Homo sapiens: one gene and its partner. The protein of the gene in region 1 purifies or fractionates together with the protein of each later gene. This does not show direct contact. Each region holds a gene or a part of one and is shown in the gene's direction. Other genes may lie near its edges. The genes, in order: KCNN3 and RAB5A.

The links.
Region 2: the proteins of KCNN3 (region 1) and RAB5A purify together in Homo sapiens (affinity purification with western blotting, with the first as the bait; one study listed by BioGRID). This does not show direct contact.

The regions. Positions count from the first base shown.
Region 1 is NC_000001.11:154,867,482-154,871,513, reverse strand, and holds the start of KCNN3 (small conductance calcium-activated potassium channel protein 3), read left to right. Parts: upstream 1-1,232; 5' UTR 1,233-1,549; coding exon 1,550-2,482; intron 2,483-3,443; exon of another isoform or gene 3,444-3,565; intron 3,566-4,032. UniProt on the Homo sapiens protein: Small conductance calcium-activated potassium channel that mediates the voltage-independent transmembrane transfer of potassium across the cell membrane through a constitutive interaction with calmodulin which binds the intracellular calcium allowing its opening.
Region 2 is NC_000003.12:19,974,338-19,978,358, forward strand, and holds part of RAB5A (ras-related protein Rab-5A), read left to right. Parts: intron 1-1,263; coding exon 1,264-1,415; intron 1,416-1,709; coding exon 1,710-1,832; intron 1,833-3,972; coding exon 3,973-4,021. UniProt on the Homo sapiens protein: The small GTPases Rab are key regulators of intracellular membrane trafficking, from the formation of transport vesicles to their fusion with membranes.

The DNA.
Region 1 (4,032 bases):
GAAAATGAATTCAGCTCTGGTCCCATCCTTTGGAACCCCCTCTGCACACAGTGGGGGCTTAATAAATACTTGATGATGATGGTTCTGAACCTGGGAAGCCAGCAGCTGTTCCTAGTTCTGACTCTCAGAGCCCCATGGGGCAAATCAGGCAGGGAATGACCATGGGGGAATCTTCAGTCTTCCTGCCAGATCCCCCTGTGACTACACACCCAGCTGTTAGGGAAGGGGCTGGAGCCATGGTCCACTTCACACACCCTGCTTTGGAGAGGCCAGTTCTTCCTCAGCAGCTTCTCTTTTGTTTTCCCCAACTAACATTTGAACAATATTTATTGAACAACCACTTTGTACTGAATATCATAGTGGAAATGCATCCTGGGAGAAAGTATCTGATCTGTGGGGTCAGACTGACTAAGTTCAAATCCCAGCATCTTTAATTACAAGCGGGATGACATCTGACAAGTTACATATCTATGTTTGAGCGTTTGAGTGTTTTTTCCACTTTCCTTTCTCTCCTTCTTCTCCTTCTCCTTCTTCTTCTTCTTCTTCCAATTTTCATCTGTAAAAGGAGAGTGATGACATCATTTTTGTGGGGTTGATGTGAGGGTTGGAAATAACAGAGAGGACCCTGAACACGAGGCGTAGGCACTCAGTCAATGGTAGGTGAGTTTATCCACCGGGTGTTAGAAGGTGTGGATCCCCCCTGCTTCTGTGACCTTGACGTTGTTACTCAACACCTCTAAGCATCAGGCTTTGTAAATGAGACCATACTGCCCACCTCCTTGGGTGTTTGGAGACTGTATCCGGATAATATATGTGAAACAACCTATCGTAAACCCTGGTGGTTAATAAATGTTTGCCTTCCCCTCCGTCTGCCCCCTCATCAGGGTGCACACCTCCCCTCCTTCGGAGGCCCTCTGTCCCTCCTCCCCATCGCCCAGCGTGAGCGAACATCCCTTATCGCCGTGGGCTTAAGGGTTGTGGCCATACCTGTCAGAGGAAAGAGGACAGCGGCTCAGCTCCGGGGTGGGGGAGCAAAAACTACAGTTCCCAGTCCTCGCTGCGCCGCCACTGGGGCCGGAGCCCAGGACGCCAGGCCCCTCCTCTGGGGAGGAGCCTATGCGGGGGGCGGAGCTAGGAGGAGGTTGGAGAGTTAAGCCAAGCCAATGAGACCAGCTGCTAATAAGTGGGCTTGGCTTACAATGTAACAGTGGCAGGAGGAGGCGAGCGAAGCTATTGAGCCAGCGAGGAGTGAAGCTGAGCCTGGCCTCACACGCTCCTAGAGGACCACCTCCTGAGAGAGTTCTTTCACCCCCTCTTCTTTCTCCAAGCTCCCCTCCTGCTCTCCCTCCCTGCCCAATACAATGCATTCTTGAGTGGCAGCGTCTGGACTCCAGGCAGCCCCAGAGAACCGAAGCAAGCCAAAGAGAGGACTGGAGCCAAGATACTGGTGGGGGAGATTGGATGCCTGGCTTTCTTTGAGGACATCTTTGGAGCGAGGGTGGCTTTGGGGTGGGGGCTTGTGCTGCAGGGAATACAGCCAGGCCCCAAGATGGACACTTCTGGGCACTTCCATGACTCGGGGGTGGGGGACTTGGATGAAGACCCCAAGTGCCCCTGTCCATCCTCTGGGGATGAGCAGCAGCAGCAGCAGCAGCAGCAACAGCAGCAGCAGCCACCACCGCCAGCGCCACCAGCAGCCCCCCAGCAGCCCCTGGGACCCTCGCTGCAGCCTCAGCCTCCGCAGCTTCAGCAGCAGCAGCAGCAGCAGCAGCAGCAGCAGCAGCAGCAGCCACCGCATCCCCTGTCTCAGCTCGCCCAACTCCAGAGCCAGCCCGTCCACCCTGGCCTGCTGCACTCCTCTCCCACCGCTTTCAGGGCCCCCCCTTCGTCCAACTCCACCGCCATCCTCCACCCTTCCTCCAGGCAAGGCAGCCAGCTCAATCTCAATGACCACTTGCTTGGCCACTCTCCAAGTTCCACAGCTACAAGTGGGCCTGGCGGAGGCAGCCGGCACCGACAGGCCAGCCCCCTGGTGCACCGGCGGGACAGCAACCCCTTCACGGAGATCGCCATGAGCTCCTGCAAGTATAGCGGTGGGGTCATGAAGCCCCTCAGCCGCCTCAGCGCCTCCCGGAGGAACCTCATCGAGGCCGAGACTGAGGGCCAACCCCTCCAGCTTTTCAGCCCTAGCAACCCCCCGGAGATCGTCATCTCCTCCCGGGAGGACAACCATGCCCACCAGACCCTGCTCCATCACCCTAATGCCACCCACAACCACCAGCATGCCGGCACCACCGCCAGCAGCACCACCTTCCCCAAAGCCAACAAGCGGAAAAACCAAAACATTGGCTATAAGCTGGGACACAGGAGGGCCCTGTTTGAAAAGAGAAAGCGACTGAGTGACTATGCTCTGATTTTTGGGATGTTTGGAATTGTTGTTATGGTGATAGAGACCGAGCTCTCTTGGGGTTTGTACTCAAAGGTAGGGGCTGTGGTTTCTCTTTATACCTTGAACAAAAGGAATATGTAGGTAGCAAGAGAGGGATTGAGAGAGGGGGATTGTGAGAGAGAGAGATTGAGAGAGAGAGAGAGAGAGAGAGAGAGAGAGAGAGATTGAGAGATTGGGAGGGAGACTGGGAGAGAGAGGTGGTGGTGGTGGTGAGAGGCGCTTGCTCAGTTATATTCAACACTCTAACTTCCCGTGGTTTTCCTTCTTGATCCCGGGAGAATTCATTCCTAGCTTCCTCTGGGGGGTAGGGGACATCCCCACACACTGTGTCTAATTTGCAGACTCTCTGTTAGGGAGGATTCAATAATCCCTTCTGAGAAATCGCTTTTCCTCCTGGCTCACTCGTACTAAAGCATAACCCAGCAGCTTAACGCACCAATTAATTACACTCCGCCTTCATGTGTTTGCCAGTTCCTGCGACTTCCCCTTCTTTCCTCCCCTCCCTGCTCCACTCCATTTTCCTGAGGATAAAAAAGAAATAAATGTCTGGGTGGGGGGTGGGGATTCCGTACCATTGCCCAAGTCCCTTCTCTCCCTGTCTTCTCCATCTCTTCCCAAGTTTCTGTTTCCCTCCTCTTCTCAGAGAGTCTCGGGCAAAATAGAAAACCATCCATGACCTGGGTCTCCTGAGGGCATGGGGTAAAAATATAGGTGGAGGAAATCAGTGGTCCTTTCCCTCAGGAGAGAGGACTCAGAATAAACCTGCTGCTGCTTCGTAAACATCTCCTGATAAAAATGGCTACAGGTGTTACCTGGGCAGAGCAGCTGGGCGCCGCCTTGGAATCAGCTGGGGGAGCACCTCTCCTTGGGACGGGATGACAGGGCTTCCCAGGCGGTCCCCACAAGCCCGCGCCCCAGCTCAGCCCCAGTTCTCCCCTCCCACCTCAACTCCTCCTTGGGATAAATAAAGATGAGTGTGTGTGTGAGTGCGCGCCCGGATGGAGAACAGCAGGCACTGGCTTTAGCGGGGAGCTGGCCCCACTGCTCCAGCCTCTCAGTCCAGCCCCAAGACGGAGGAGGGGGTTTCCCTCCCAGAGGGAGTGGAGATGGAGGAAGGTGGGTTTCTGCCGATGCTCTGCTTGCCGGGGAGCTCTCCTGCTGTGGGCTGGAAGGCTTGGAGACCTGGGAATCGGTGGACAAGTGGCTCCACGATACCCCCACCCCCAATTTGTTGGTGTGTGTGTGTGTATGTGCGTAATGTTTGTACGTATGCATGCGCCTGCTTGTTGCTTGGGTTTTTCTATTTATTTGTCATTTGGGGCAGGGGGTGGCTTGGTGGGGGGGTGGCTGGGCGGGCTGGCCATCGGGTAGCTGGGAGGGGTTCAGCTGTTGGAGGTTTCAAATAGAGCTTGTTTCAGGCAGGGCACAGCTGCTGCGAGACTGTCACATTCCTTATTGAAATCCAGCCGCAAAAACCTAGGAGGTGCTGATCGGATTTCCCCCATTCCCAGCATCTCACTTTAATCGGTGATGGGCAGACTTTCCCGCCCTGGAAACGGGTGGGGCAGACCTGTCAGACGACC
Region 2 (4,021 bases), on another chromosome or scaffold:
AGAGACAGGGTTTCACCATGTTGGCCAGGATGGTCTTGATCTCCTGACCTCGTGATTTGCCTTCCTCAGCCTCCCAGAGTGCTGGGATTACAGGCATGAGCCACCACGCCTGGCCTATAATGCTACTTTCCTAGTGTTAAAATTAGAATCAGGGAAAGTACAGATCCAAAAAATTCTTATGGCAGGGAATGAAAGGTAGGAGCAAATATTGAATCAACTGAACAAATTAAATCTAGGTTAAGGTAATAATGACTACCACAATTAAAGTGTCACAATGTTTTAAAAAATAATATAGCAAGAGGCCTGGTACGGTGGCTCACGCCTATAATCTCAGCACTTTTGGGAGGCACTCCAGCCTGGGAGATAGAGCAAGACTGTGTCTCAGAAAAAGAAAAAAAAAGATAATATAACAAGAAATACTAATTTGGTGGTAACTGACTGGGACTAAATTGCCAGTGTGCGCCAATAAAAACTAGTAAAATGGAACAGGACATGGTGTCAGCAGTATAGATGGTACTTTTAGGCACACTGGGTTTCCCCCAACTTCATTTTTTAAGACTATCAGTGCATTTCTTTAATTGTAGAGCAATTTTGAAATGCAGTCTTCGCTGGGCTTGGTGGCTTACGCCTGTCATCCCAGCACTTTGGGAGGCCAAGGTGGGCGGATCACCTGAGATCAGGAGTTCGAGACCAGCCTGGCCAACATGGTGAAACCCCATCTCTACTAAAACTACAAAAATTAGCCACGTGTGGTGGTGCATGCCTGTAGTCCCAGCTACTCAGGAGGCTGAGGCAGGAGAATTGCTTGAACCCGGGAGGCGGAGGTTGCAGTGAGCTGAGATCACGCCCCTGCACTCTAGTCTGAGACTCTTGTATCAAAAAAAAAAAAAAAAAGAAGAAGGAAAAGAAATGTAGTCTTAAGTTTATTTAGTATTATAACAAGCTTTTTTAAGATGCAGAAGTTTTTCAATCTGTGATTTCACTACAAAGGCCCTATATGTAAGCATATATGTAAATAGCTTAGAAGCACAGGTTTGCCAGTATTTAAAGCTATTATCAGCTGTGGGTATGCAATCTGTCAAGTTTCTAGGTGTTTTCTTTTTTTTTCCCCCCTCATTTATTACTTTTAACTGACACATAATAGTTGTACATACTTACGGGGTACAGTGTGACATTTTGATAGATGTATACAAGCAGGTGTTTTCTATATTATGAAAACATTTGGAGAAAAATGATTGACTTATTGTAGTCCTTTTCTTTCAGCTGCTTTTCTAACCCAAACTGTATGTCTTGATGACACTACAGTAAAGTTTGAAATATGGGATACAGCTGGTCAAGAACGATACCATAGCCTAGCACCAATGTACTACAGAGGAGCACAAGCAGCCATAGTTGTATATGATATCACAAATGAGGTAAGTATGGATGCATTCCACAGTAAAACTAATTTGAGTACCCACTTTTGGTGTTCAGAATTTTGATTAAATGTTTTGGAAAATCTTTTTCTGATAGTCATGACCTTTCTGCTGAAGCTTTTGTGAATTAGAAAATCTGGTTTTAAAAAAAAACGAAAATGTCTCATAATACAATAGTCCTAATAATTTCTTTCCCACAGTCACTTGGGACAGTCTTTTAAAGCCTTGTATCACAAAGATGCTTGGTAACCATTTTTTGAGCCTGTGCTCAATGGCTGTTTCTTTGTTTAACAGGAGTCCTTTGCAAGAGCAAAAAATTGGGTTAAAGAACTTCAGAGGCAAGCAAGTCCTAACATTGTAATAGCTTTATCGGGAAACAAGGCCGACCTAGCAAATAAAAGAGCAGTAGATTTCCAGGTATGTTAAATTTAACTCTCATTTGAAAGGCACTTTTTTCCTGTATGTTTTTCTTTCATGTCAACACTTGAATTAGTTATAATGTCAAAACCATGCAAGTAATAGAAAATACTGATTTTTAAAACAAATATAAAGTACTACATATAATAAAATGTTTCTGATAAACCTAAATTTTTAAATAGATTATTGTAATATATAAACTGACCCAAAGATTTTGTAGACTTAAACAATAAAGGCCGGGTTCAGTGGCTCACGCCTGTAATCCCAGCACTTTGGGAGGCCGAGGTGGGTGGATCACCTGAGGTTGGGAGTTCAAGACCAACCTAACCAACTTGGAGAAACCCTGTCTCTACTAAAAATACAAAATTAGCTGGAGATGGTAGTGCATGCCTGTAATCCCAGCTACTTGGGAGGCTGAGGCAGGAGAATCTCTTGAACCCAGGAGGCGGAGGTTGTGGTGAGCCAAGATCACACTATTGCACTCCAGCCTGGGCAACAAGAGCAAAACTCCGTCTCAAAATAAAAAAGAAAAACAGTAAAAGTAGTCATTGTTCACAGTGCAGAAAGTGATTGTATCCTGCCCTAATTCCTCCATCCCACACATACTTTATGTCCTAACCCTCTTCTACTCATGTGCAAATATGTATCAGCACATGTGTGTACCCCACATATGTACATACGCAAACACTTATGTGGTTGTTCTTAAAGGGGCATTCAAACATAAAGGTTCTGCCAATCTGTATCCAGAGTTGGAAAATAATAAGCTAAAAACTAATAATTAAAAAAAATTTTTTTAAGGCTGAGAAAATCCAGTTTTGTATTACGATTGCTAATTCAGAATGTTTGCTGCTGCAAAATAGGCAAGTGCAATCACTTAAAAACAAAGCAAGTCCTCTATTTAGACTTTTTTTTTTTTTTTTAAGATGGAGTCTTGCTCAGTTGCCCAGGCTGGAGTGCAGTGGCGCAATCTCAAGCTCACTGCAAGCTCCACCTCCTGGGCTTACGCCATTCTGCTGCCTCAGCCTCCCAAGTAGCTGGGACTACAGGCGCCCACCACCACTCCTGGCTAATTTTTTGTGTGTTTTCAGTAGAGACAGGGTTTCACTGTGTTAGCCAGGGTGGTCTCGATCTCCTGACCTTGTGATCCACCCGCCTCCGCCTCCAAAAGTGCTAGGATTACAGGCGTGAGCCACCACGCCCGGCATACTTAGACCTTTTAAAACTGTGCCTGTTCTCTTGCTCTTTGGCTTCTCTACTAGAAGGGCGGTTGTGGCTGTTCTGTATATATCAGTGATGAAATAGTTTTCTTTTTTGATGACGTAGATGGAATCCATGTATTCTTGCATCATTAGGTATTAAGTTGGGCATGTTACATTTGTAATTTTATTTAATTCTTAGGACAACGATGTGAGATGTAGTATCCATTACTCTTTCCAAAATTGTTGCCTTCCCAGCACAAGAGTGGCAGAGAAAACACTTAAATTACAGTCAGAAGTGGCCCTGTCACATAACAGTTCAGAGGAACCTCAGTTGTTTCTTTGTCCAATGGGAAAGATCATTGGTTACCCCTCACAACAGCTATGAGGATCAAAAGTAATAATATATGTAAACTGTAAAAGCATGACAAAAATGTAGGGCAGTGATGTAATTTTCAAAGGAATGATTTATGATATATTCAAGATTATAATATTGCTGTAGAAGTCATTGAAAATTAAATATGAGGTTGTCATTTAGTGTTTGAAGCCAGTGTTAGATATTTGGTTTCCCTTTGTCTTCATTGCAGACAGTAAGTGCAAATAAAAATTGCCGTTGAGATCAAAGAGAGTTTTATTTAGAATAAGATAATTCTCCCCCATCTCTGGAACTCAGTATTTGAAAGCAGATTTAATGTAAGAAAAGATTAATCAAGGTGGGATAATGCAAGAATTTCAGACAAAAAAGGAAATAGTCCATTATAAAATTATCTTGCACAGTGCTCTTACCTCTGTTGTAGCTTATTATATAGTTGTTGATTATAGATGATTATAGGAATCAGGTTGTAGTAATAAGAAAGTCTCCTTTTCTATAACAAGTTTAAAGCAGGTGTAGTGTATTTCCAAGAGATATATCTCATATATCTCATTTTTTGTTCTGTAAACAGGAAGCACAGTCCTATGCAGATGACAATAGTTTATTATTCATGGAGACAT